2 linked regions of the Homo sapiens genome follow. The protein of the gene in region 2 purifies or fractionates together with the protein of the main gene of each other region. This does not show direct contact. Each region holds a gene or a part of one and is shown on either strand. Other genes may lie near its edges.

Region 1 (5,406 bases), on a different chromosome or scaffold from region 2:
TGAAAAGTGAAACTTCACCGTTAGACTCCTCTTCATGTCAGGCAATTTGAGATATACACCATGTTGTTTTCTACTGCTCAAACTGTGCTTTGGCAATTAAAGCCTGCCTCTTACATCTCTGTGTGTGGCAGCAAAATGGAGTCTCAGCAACCAGGCAGGAAAATGACACAAATCCTGCAGCAGGGTCAATGGCAGTAGCAAAGAATTAAACAGAAAAAGAGAGGTTAGATAAAACAGTTCAAGGTAGTAGCAAGGGACCAGGCTAAAGGAAGTCAGGCAGTCCCAGGTTAGCACAAAGCTTCCAGGGGACATCAGAGGTGTCACTGGGCTGAAGACAACTCTTGTGTTGTCCGTTGCTTTGAGTCCTTTGAGTTGCTTTCTGAGGCTTTTCATCCATTGGCAGCTTCACATCAGCTCCATCCTCTAGAGGGACCTTTTTCATTACGTGGATTCTGATCCTTTTGAAGTGGTTACCATCAAGTAATGTGGAGCTCACTAAGGAAGTCCACATCCTCAAGACAGTGTCCACAGCCCTAATTCCTCTTCTTCAAAGATGTCCCCCTTCCAGGCATAGGAGTGTGAATCTGGGTGCTAAATCATTTCTCCTCTCTCCACACATCCTAATGCTACAGTCTAATGAGGGGACTGAAGATGAAATGCCCAGATGCATATGGAGGCAGACACATGGATAGATTCTTCCAAAACGTCAGCTGGTGCTTTTCCAGCCAATTAAGAACACTCATGAAAATTCTTTCTGAAGTACCAGGACAAATCTCTTAAGAGTTGGGTATGGGATTTTGGAGTCCTTTTGATGTGCTACTCTTTAGCCCTCAAAGGTGATTGAGAGGTGGTCACATTTCATGAACATCTAACAACGCTGGAGCCACCAGTAATCTCTGGTTACCAGGTTTAATGCTTTGTGGAAGCCATCATGGCATGATGATGGTAAGGTGTTGTGTCAAAGCCGGAGTCATTGGGTACATGTGATTTGCACCATGATGTGAAGACATAGTCTTAACATGCAAGAGTCCATCTGAGAGAGCACTTTCTTTTCAGGCCTGAGATGTTTCATGTCACAAGGGTTTTTCCTGCTCCTGGGAGAACCAGTCGAGTTGCTGCTCCTTGAGAATTAACAGAACCATGGAAATGGAGTTTGAAGACGGTGAAGTTTCTAAGGGTGCAGCGAGAGGATCACGGAAGCCTTTCCACACTGCACCGATAATTTTGGCTTCCTTAATAAGGCCTCAGTCCTCCAGTGATTTAAAAAGAGGGTACCGAAACCGCAAGAAAAGTCATGTCCTCCTCCTCCTCGTCTCCCCCTCCATAAAGAAATCAGCATTTCCTGCGTTTGTATCAGCTTCTCTGTAAATGTTAAACAGCAAATTTGGCAGCCTATAATTTAGATGGTGATGGAGGTTTTGGCAGGTAAAACCCAGACTTCCAGGACTGGCTGGAAAGTAAACTTATTAATTATTTTAGTTAGATTGGCAGTCAAGGTGGAAAAATGAGAGATCATTTATTGGCAAATACTCTGTTGCTCTCAGAAAATGTTGAAGGTCTTTTGGTGCTTTAGGATGTGTGCCAGTCCAGAGTGGCCCTAACCTTCCATAGCCGTTTCAGAGAGGATGTGCCTCAGGTGGCCTGAAGATACAGTAGCCTAAAATTTAGCACACAGTCACTGATTGAGAAGCTGAACAGGAATAAATTTTGAGGGCAGAGATCCTGAAGGACATGACAGGTATTTACAGGGTACTGTAAGATGGAGGCGGCGGCGGTGGTGGTGGTGGAGGCGGCGGCTGTGGCGGCGGGTACTGTGGTACCGGAGGCTGGCGGTACCAGTGTGGATTCCAAGTGATCATCACAGGTACATATAGTGATCTTCCTTGTCCGTCTCGTCCCACTGGGTACCAGGCGAATCCTACTGGGTAGGTCGGGTACGCGGCATATGTGGGGTATGTTTGGTATCCAGGTATTTGAGGTACGAATTCAGTGTACGTTGCCAGGTGTGCTTGGTCTTCTAAATTTGGAATAGATAGGCGAGGATACTGATTCTGGATAGTAAAATTGTTTGGAGCTCGGCAATCATAAGAAACTTGCAGTTTCCACCCCCTCTTCACCTGGAGAACTTGGGCTCCATTAGGTGCAATCGTTGGAGTAATTAGCCCATCTTTTACATTTCTTGCCACAAAATCTCGAAGAGCTGCCATTTCAGGTTCGGACAGTGAATACACATGTCCACTGGGAATACTGTGTGCTCCAGGTATCATTTCTATGTGAGGGTCAACCAGGCGGTGATCTGGGTAGACGTGCTCATCTACTGGAGTGTACACATTCTGGACATAGTAATACCTCACTGGTTGGTAAACTCTGTATCCATCTACTGGATAATAGAGTGGCGGTTGTGGTGCTGGTGGTGGGAGCGATGGTGGTATTGGAGAATACATCCGGCAGTGGTAGCGGCAGTATTCAGAATCAAAGACGATAGATCGAGTGCTCCATGTGATATTGGGATCATGTGTGCTCAGCCAGCGAACCCCTAGGACGACAGGGAAGAATGGAGACTGAGTCACATCAAATGACAGCACCTCTCGGTGATCTCCCAGGTCAACTATCAGGTCGTGAGTTTCGTGGACAACTGGGCCCGATGCTATGGGGCGCCCATCAATTGCTTCCACAAGTATTGGCCAGTCCTTGATTCTTAGAGGAATTCCATTTTGAGCAACATATTCGTGATCAATGAAGTTGCCAGAAGCACCAGAATCGATCATGGCTCGGACGAACAGGGTGTGTCTGCCCGGAAGATGAATCTGGAGCATCACTTGCAAGTGTGGAGATGAGGCATCATCTTGTGGGGACCTTATTATTTCTGGCCCGGTCGCTGAAGGTCCCTCTACAGCGGGGCCGGGGAGTTTCCCGCCGGCGAAGACTTTGAGGCCTTGGCAGGACAATTGTCAGCGTAGTGACCTCCTGTTCCACAGTAGAGGCACAGGTTCAGCTTTCTGCGTCTTTCTTTTTCTTCCTGCGTCAGGCGCATGCGGGCACCTCCCACCGGCTCGGTTGGATCTACCTGGTGGTGGCTTGCAATGTGAGGCAACACCAGCGCCCGGGGTGGCGAGCGTGGCTTGCGAGCTGCAGCAGCCCTGGCCAGCCTTCTCTCAATGTGAATGCACTGCCCAATCAGAGCAGACAGCGACTTGGCGACCTCGAGGTGGGAGAGCTCCTCCTGAATGTGGTCGCTGAGGCCCTCGTGGTACTGGTCAATCAGCGCAGGCTCGTTCCAATCCAGGTCCTGGGCAATCATCTGGAAAGCATTGGAGTAGTCGATGACAGACCCCATGCCTTGGCGCAGGCGTCTGATCTTGCGTTTGGCAACCTCTCGCCTCTGAGGGTCTTCAAAGACATGCTTCATTTCCATCATGAAAGCTGGGTAGTTGTGCATCAGGTAGTGGGAGCGCTCCAGCTTTGCTGAGGCCCAACGGGCAGCACGGCCGGTCATCATGCTTGTCACGAAGCAGACACGGACACGATCAACTGAGAAATCCCTGGTGCTCTTTTCCATGAAGATCTGGCACTGGGCCATGAAAGGAGCCAGCATGTCTGGGTTGCCATCGAACTTCTCTGGGAGGTCTTCTGGGCACTCTTCCTCTATTGGAGGGGGTGGGGCAGCAGCTGCTGCAGCACCGCGGAGCTCGATGTCATCATCCTCATCCTCAGGGGTGGGTTCCACTTGCTCTCGAAGGGTGGTGTTCTCCTCTGTGAGCTTCTGCACCTGGCTCTGCAGGTTGTTGTTCTCCTCCGACTGCTTCATGACCTTCTCTCTTAAGTTGTTGATCTCTTCAGAGAGCTCGTCCCTTCTTCGTTCGGTCATGTTGGGGACACACGCACTCTTATGGCCGGTGTGCTTGGAGTTGTTGTTGTTGTTGTTGTTGGGGGGAGGGGGAGGAGGAGGAGGTGGGCAGTCGGGACCCAGGGTGACGGTTGGGGTGGGAGGAGACCTCCCAGCTGTAGCTTCACTTCTGTGGGGATGGAGGCCTGGATCCTGGCCCCCTCTTCCACTCCTTCTTTTTTTTGTTTTCAAAACCCGCTTATTTCTGTAAATAAAGATAAATGTATGTATAAATCCAACTTATACATTCAAAGCAGCAAAAGCAGACACAAAGGATTTGGTATTTAAATTATCCCTTGCTCTACGTGCTTACATTAATAATTAGTGAACAAAGAAAATAAACTCTCAAGAGAAAGTTAGTAATCAGCACCATATATAACAAAAAGCAAAGTACTTTTTGATGTTCAAATGACCTTGTCTTCCTCAAAGGCCACCTGTTCATTATGATTCAACAATACATTATCAACAGCATGCTTACCTTTATAAACTATAAAAGAATGTTGAAACCCTCTAAACAAGTAGTTTTGTATTCAAACACAGCAAGAAACTTCAAGGCAAACATGGATACAAAATCAATTATGCAAATTAAAGCCAAAATAATAACTTTTGTTATTAAAGAAGCCAGGCCAAAAATAGTTAATACTGCAACTAATAGAATCTCATTAAAGCAAGAAGGGAGTATTAAAATCACAATGCATGTATTCATCAGCCCTGTGGGCAGGAGGGTACTCTGGCCAACTGTCACAACCCTATTCCACTGCCACCGAGAAGGTAACTGGTTATCAAATCAAACAACCACCACCACAAAAACCACAGGACTGCCTAAATTACTTTTCTGACCATAATTTAAATCCCCAAAGAAAATTCTCTATGGGACAGAAATGGCACTAAGCAGCAATATGTGTATGTCAGTTTCCTTTGTCATTATGCAGTCATTCAAGAAATAATAATTGATGCCTCCTAGGAAAAGCTATAAAATGGGACATTCAAAGAAGCCCAATAATAGTATACCTCAAACTAATTATGAGGACTTAATTAAATAGTGCAGGTAAATTATGTAGTGAGTATTCAACAATGGTTAGCTGATATGAACAAAGTTATTAATTAGAAAATAGAAAGGTGACTATCTGTGTAAAAAGAGTGGGATTAAAAGAGGGAGGGGCTGCAACTATAGCAACATGGGCATGCATTTCCCACCTAAAGACATTTACTTTTTTAAAAATACTGTGTTGGTCAAACAAATTCAAGGCCTTATTTGTCTTGCAGTTTACCAGTTTGTAATCCATAGTTTTTAATGAAGATTTGTCAGCATAGCCCCAAATGAAGGTTTGTAATGTTAAGGTGGGACAGGGCTGCACTCCTAGGGGGTGAGTGGATGTGTGTGGGGAGGTGGGGGTAGGGTGTGTGTTTAAGCATTCTAATTATGAGTGTAATGACAATCACACACATAAAAATCCTGACACAGTGTCTGCCTGTGTACTTCCTGAAAATACAGTTAAATGCATTTAGAATGATTTAAT
Region 2 (5,406 bases):
ATGATTCAGGCTCTGGCAACAGGCATCCAACAGGTTGTAAAAAGAAAGGGGGCAGTAAAACAGCTTTGGGTGATCCAGCATCCTGGAATGGGAGGTAGGAGCAAAGGCAAAAAAGAAAGGTACCTCCAGAATTGCATCTTCGAGCAATCTCCCAATATACAAGCCCGAGGGCATAAATATCAGCACATTTAAAGGAGTCAAAGTGTTTCATATTAATGGTTTCATCAAGTACTTCAGGGGCCATGTATCTGCAATAGCAAAACAAACATGGTCACGCACAGAAAATGATGACTGCTCTCTTTAAATCAAAGTATTGATTCAGGAGCCCTCTGAATGTGGAAGAGTATCACCCTGATAAAGTCCCTTGGGGCAGAAGAAGTGTACACATCTCTTCATTGCAAACTCCCATGTTTTAAATTTGATTCTAAATACTTCAGCACAGATTTGGCAATACCAGGCTACTCTGATGTGTATCTCTATTTTTAACCATCAAGATTTGTTTATTTGGCCAGGTGCGGTGGCTCACGCCTGTAATCCCAGCACTTTGGGAGGCCAAGGTGGGCGGATCACCTGAGGGCAGGAGTTGGAGACCAGCCTGGCCAACATCGCGAAACCCCATCTCTATTACAAATACAAAAAATTAGCCAGGCATGGTGGCAGGCGCCTGTAATCCCAGCTACTCGGGAGGCTGAGGCAGGAGAATCACTTGAACCCGGGAGGCGGAGGCTGCAGTGAGCCATGACTGTGCCATTGCACTCCAGCTTGGGCAACAAGAGCGAAACTCCATATCAAAAAAACAAAGAGAGAGTAAAGATTTGTTTATTTGAAGCATGTTTTGACTTCTTGGCAGAAGTACTTGTAATGTGGGTCACAGGGGCAGTAACAGTACCTAATATTTGGTTGACACCAGGGTCCTTCACTTTATTGAATGTAGTCACAGTGATGGGTTGAGCTTAAGTTTCATTCCGAACTGCTTTTGTTATCTTACCTGACTATAGATATGTCAAAATTAATTCTAGAGGTGGTCAGCGGCACCCTTAATGACTCTGAGTAGTAATTATGAGTAATTACTATGATTCCAGCCACCCCAGCCCCCACAATAAATCAGGGGATAATCTTAATTAAATTCATTTAGATTCAGCAGATTTCCACCTCTTCCACTCTATTAAAAGGCAGTCCCATTTCCAACTCATGAAGTCAATTTGCAATCACAGCTCCTTACTTCTTACCTCACTTCTGCATGAAGTGGGAAGCAGGCCCATAATCTTGAAGGGTGCCCCAAATCTCTATCCTGGGTTACCTTTGCTATAGTTTGGCAAATCTGGTCTCCAGTCCCTAAGCACATGCTCCCTGCCTCCTTCACAGCTCTCTGCACAGGAGATGACAGTGTTTTCCCTCTTTCCCGAGCCACACCTGTTGCCTGCTATCCTTCTAAATCCTGCTCTAGATTGTCCTTCTCTACCCTCCGACCTTAATACCACCAACACCAATGTGCATACAGTTTATGGAGCTGTGCTCTCAGCACTTGTATCTGTTAGATGCAGTGATGCAACTTTCCATTGTGGGGAGTGCATGTTCAATTCAACTTTCAGTGGGCTGAGAGCAAGGTCCTCGCCTCCTTTTTCAACACCTCCTTCTCCTGCGCATATGGGAAACGGCACAGATGGGATACTCAGTAGAAGCTGCTTAGCAAGGGCAGAGTCCCAGGCCCTCCTACCGTTTGGTCCCCACCCTCTGATTCGGGGCAATGTCAATGGTGTCAGTGACTGCATCATGACGGACAGCCAGGCCCAGGTCTGCTATGGCACACATGCCATTTTTCTTCACCAGAATGTTCTTTGACTTTAAGTCTCGATGAGCAATTCCAGGCTTCCCTGGCAGAGAAAAAAACAGGGATCTTTACAAAGAGATGATATAAATGTTAAAAGCATAGACTATGCAGCCAGACTGTATAGGTTTGAGTCCTGGCTTTGCCTCCTGCTAATCCAGTGACCCTGGAAAAGTGACTTTAGCCCTCTGTACCTCAGTCTTCTCATCCATAAAATCAGAATGACTACTTATTTCATGGGACTGTTGTGAGGATTAAATGCATTCATGTAGCTAAGTTACGACCATAGAAGGACATGTGTATTTAGCTAATATTTGTATTAATATTTACTACTACTACTCGCCTTCCCTGAGCAAATATGCTCAGGTACAGAAGTGCTGAGGGACTGAAGGGAAGTTGCTGCAATGCCTAGTTCTCAGAAGGAAACAGGCCCGATGATGAGAACTGGCACCGCACAGGCTATAGGAATAGGATCCAACTTTCACGGGTGATTTTCCATTGTGGCCCTGGTCAACCAGGCATCAGGGATCACACCTGCCATTGTGACAAGATCCAGGATCTCCCAAAGAGCCGACATGATAATCAACAAGTAGCAGAGCTTCAGGTCTTCTTCCTCCAGGAAAACCTTCCCAGATTAGTAAGGCCCAGAATCTAATCCACCAAGTGGCCTTTAAGCCAGCTGTCCCCATCAATGAACATGGAAATCACTAAACTGATGTTCCCAGTACACTGGTTTATCTTTTTAGTTCCATTTTTTCTCATGTCTATTGTGGGATTCTAAGATGATTACTCCTTCGTAACAAATGACTATGTCAAGCCACTGATTGACAAGTAGCTGAATATTGATATTATAGGGTTCCTGAGGGAGTTCTATCAAGACAGAGGTGAAGGGAACACCCTGTAGATACCTCACTTAAGTGAAGCTCAAACCTCCTTTCCTTTAAATTAAACTAGAGTTCCTGAGGTCCAGCCCCAACTTCCTCAGTAAAAAGGAATTCTAGGAACTAAATCAGGACACTGCGGACCTTTCATGCCTACACCACTTCGCCGCTCCTGCGCTAGTCCACTCACCTTGGGTGCCCACGATCTCCATGTGCAGGTGTGCCAGCCCACTAGCAGCAGACAAGGCCAGCTTAATCATCCCCTCAATTGTCACTGTGTACCGGTTCAGATAATCAAACAGGGACCCGTGCTCATGATAGTCAGAAACAAGCCACAGCTGTGTCCAGGTGCCATTATCTGCAGAGAACCACAGATGAGTCCCAGAAAAAGTGTAACTATCAGCAAAACAGTGAAGGTTGGTAAGGATGAGTGTATACAACACAAAATCAGGTTAGACTCCTGAATTCACATTTCCCACCTCCATGCCCCCTGAAGCCCCATCTAGCATCCTTTCATTTATAGTGGTCTACCAGTTTGGGACCTCAGTAAGGACAGGGGAACACCATTTCTTTCTTAGGACTGCTCCTGATTTCCTTTAGGTGAACTGTAGGATTCTGAACATTATGTCAAATTTGAAATGTGAGGTACTCAGGAAAGAGGAGGCATATGCCTGGGGAAGGTAACAGCTATCACCAGCTTTGTGTGCAGCACTGCTTTGATCCTGACCAAGACTTGCTCATCTGCACGGGAGAACCACAATGAGCTGGATCTACCACCACCAAACAGGAAAGCCTTGGAGGGCCTCCTGTGTCCCAGCGACCCTCTGAACACAGCCCAAACACAGCACCTGTCTCATCTGTAATGTTTCTTTTCAGTCTGTTGTTCTTACCAGGCTATGATATCTCTGTGAGTAGGAAAGATCTCCTTTATGGATTATTGGATTCCAGGCCAAAAAATGCTTTTCAGTGCATGAATAGACCACTTCCAAGTATTCCCAGAAAGGCATCTCATCCTTCAGAGGAGCAATGGAAGGTAGAGTGCATACACTTTATTTTCTCTTTTACACTAGGGACAGCAGGAAGGAGGAGAGCAGGAGGAGGGAGAAAAAGAAACACCAAAGCCAGGAATCGAATTAAGCCATGCCGTTGTCAATTGGAAGACTGGAAATTGAGTTGAAATCTCCAAAATTCCAGGCTGGCGCTGATTCCAGGGCACCATACTATATATACCCCATGTTAAAAAGGCAAGAACGAGGGAGTCTGATTGTTTCCCTTCCCTGGCCTTAAGGTGGGTTTTGAAAGCCAGATCCCTACTCACACAAGCTGCCAGAATCAATAAAGGGATGGATCCTGGAAACACACACATCTTGGCTTCTCTTATCACAAACAAGGGGCCCACCCAACACACTGCTTCTCGCACTCTAACCAGCCCCAAAGTCCTGAGGACCCTGCTAACAAGTTCAAAGAGAAGACATGATTTGATCCTTTTAAAACATATAAGATTTAAATTTTATCAAAAGGTGATAGTTTTAAAAAGGAATAGCTTACTCAGTGGGAATAAAAATCTTGCTCTTCCCCTTCCTCCCTTGTATTGGAGTCTAAGGCTCCTCAGCTTGGGGGCAGCAGAGACCATTACAACTTCCCATGGCAATGTGAGGAATGAGCAGTCTGCTGTTGTTTCAGGAATGAAAAACAAATAGCATCTTCTGTAGGCTTTGTAGACACTAACTTCTAAATTGCACCATGCCACAGGAGCAAGTCATGTCACAACTGCTAGAGAGACCCTTCCACAATGTGAACCAGCCACTCACAGCATCCTCTCTGTGCTCCGGGTGCCACTACCTGTCCACGTGTCTGTCCCCTTCTTCCTGGGAGCTCTGTGAGGGGAGGGACTGTGTCTTGCTCTTATGTGTGATGGTCCAAGCAGCCAGCAGAGGTCTGGCCCACAGCAGTCAATAAATGTTATAGAATTAATGAATGAAATTTTAATTACTACCCACTATCTTCAGAATGGAATACAATCCTCTCAAAAAGGCCCCTCATAATCTGGCCTCTGCCTCCCTCTCCACCCACAGCCATCCAAGTTACTTGCTGGGCCCCAAACCTCACCTTTGCACATGTCTGCAGTGCTCTTCCCTGCAAGGAAGATTTTTCTTCCTGACCAGTTCTTGCCACCTTTGTCTCAACTGGGCTCAGGTGCGAGTCAGCCCCAATTTGTGCTCAACAGAACAACTCGTGTTTACCTCCTCTAATCACCCTTACTCGTCATCCTTTGCTAGTCAATGAGGTCCTCAAACATAGGGAGGTGCCTGGCACATAAGAGATTCAAAAACTAAAGCAATAAAAGGGAGAGGAAGAAGGAAAGAATCCTCAGGGACAGGACTGACCAAGAGCAGAGTCCGAAGGCGACACTTCGTGGACTACAGGCTTTTCTGTCGTTATCCTCCTTGCCAGGGTTGAGGCCGCAATTCCTCATCCTAGGGATTTTTTTTTTCTTTTTTTTTTTTTGAGACGGAGTCTCGCTCTGTCGCCCAGGCTGGAGTGCAGTGGCGCGACCTCAGCTCACTGCAACCTCCAGCTCACTGCAACCTCCGCCTCCTGGGTTCAAGCAATTCTCCTGCCTCAGCCTCCTGAATAGCTGGGATTACAGGTAGGTGTCACCGTGGCCAGCTCATTTTTGTATTTTTAGTAGAGATG

The links. The genes of interacting proteins can lie anywhere in the genome.
Region 1: the proteins of ACVR1B (region 2) and PEG10 purify together in Homo sapiens (affinity purification with western blotting; one study listed by BioGRID). This does not show direct contact.

The regions. Positions count from the first base shown.
Region 1 is NC_000007.14:94,662,019-94,667,424, reverse strand, and holds part of PEG10 (retrotransposon-derived protein PEG10), read right to left. Parts: intron 4,092-5,406; coding exon 2,891-4,091; coding exon of another isoform or gene 1,743-2,890; 3' UTR 1-1,742.
Region 2 is NC_000012.12:51,981,660-51,987,065, reverse strand, and holds part of ACVR1B (activin receptor type-1B isoform a precursor), read right to left. Parts: intron 4,381-5,406; coding exon of another isoform or gene 4,258-4,380; intron 3,723-4,257; coding exon of another isoform or gene 3,718-3,722; exon of another isoform or gene 3,074-3,717; intron 3,068-3,073; coding exon 2,900-3,067; intron 1,875-2,899; coding exon 1,718-1,874; intron 249-1,717; coding exon 124-248; intron 1-123. UniProt on the Homo sapiens protein: Transmembrane serine/threonine kinase activin type-1 receptor forming an activin receptor complex with activin receptor type-2 (ACVR2A or ACVR2B).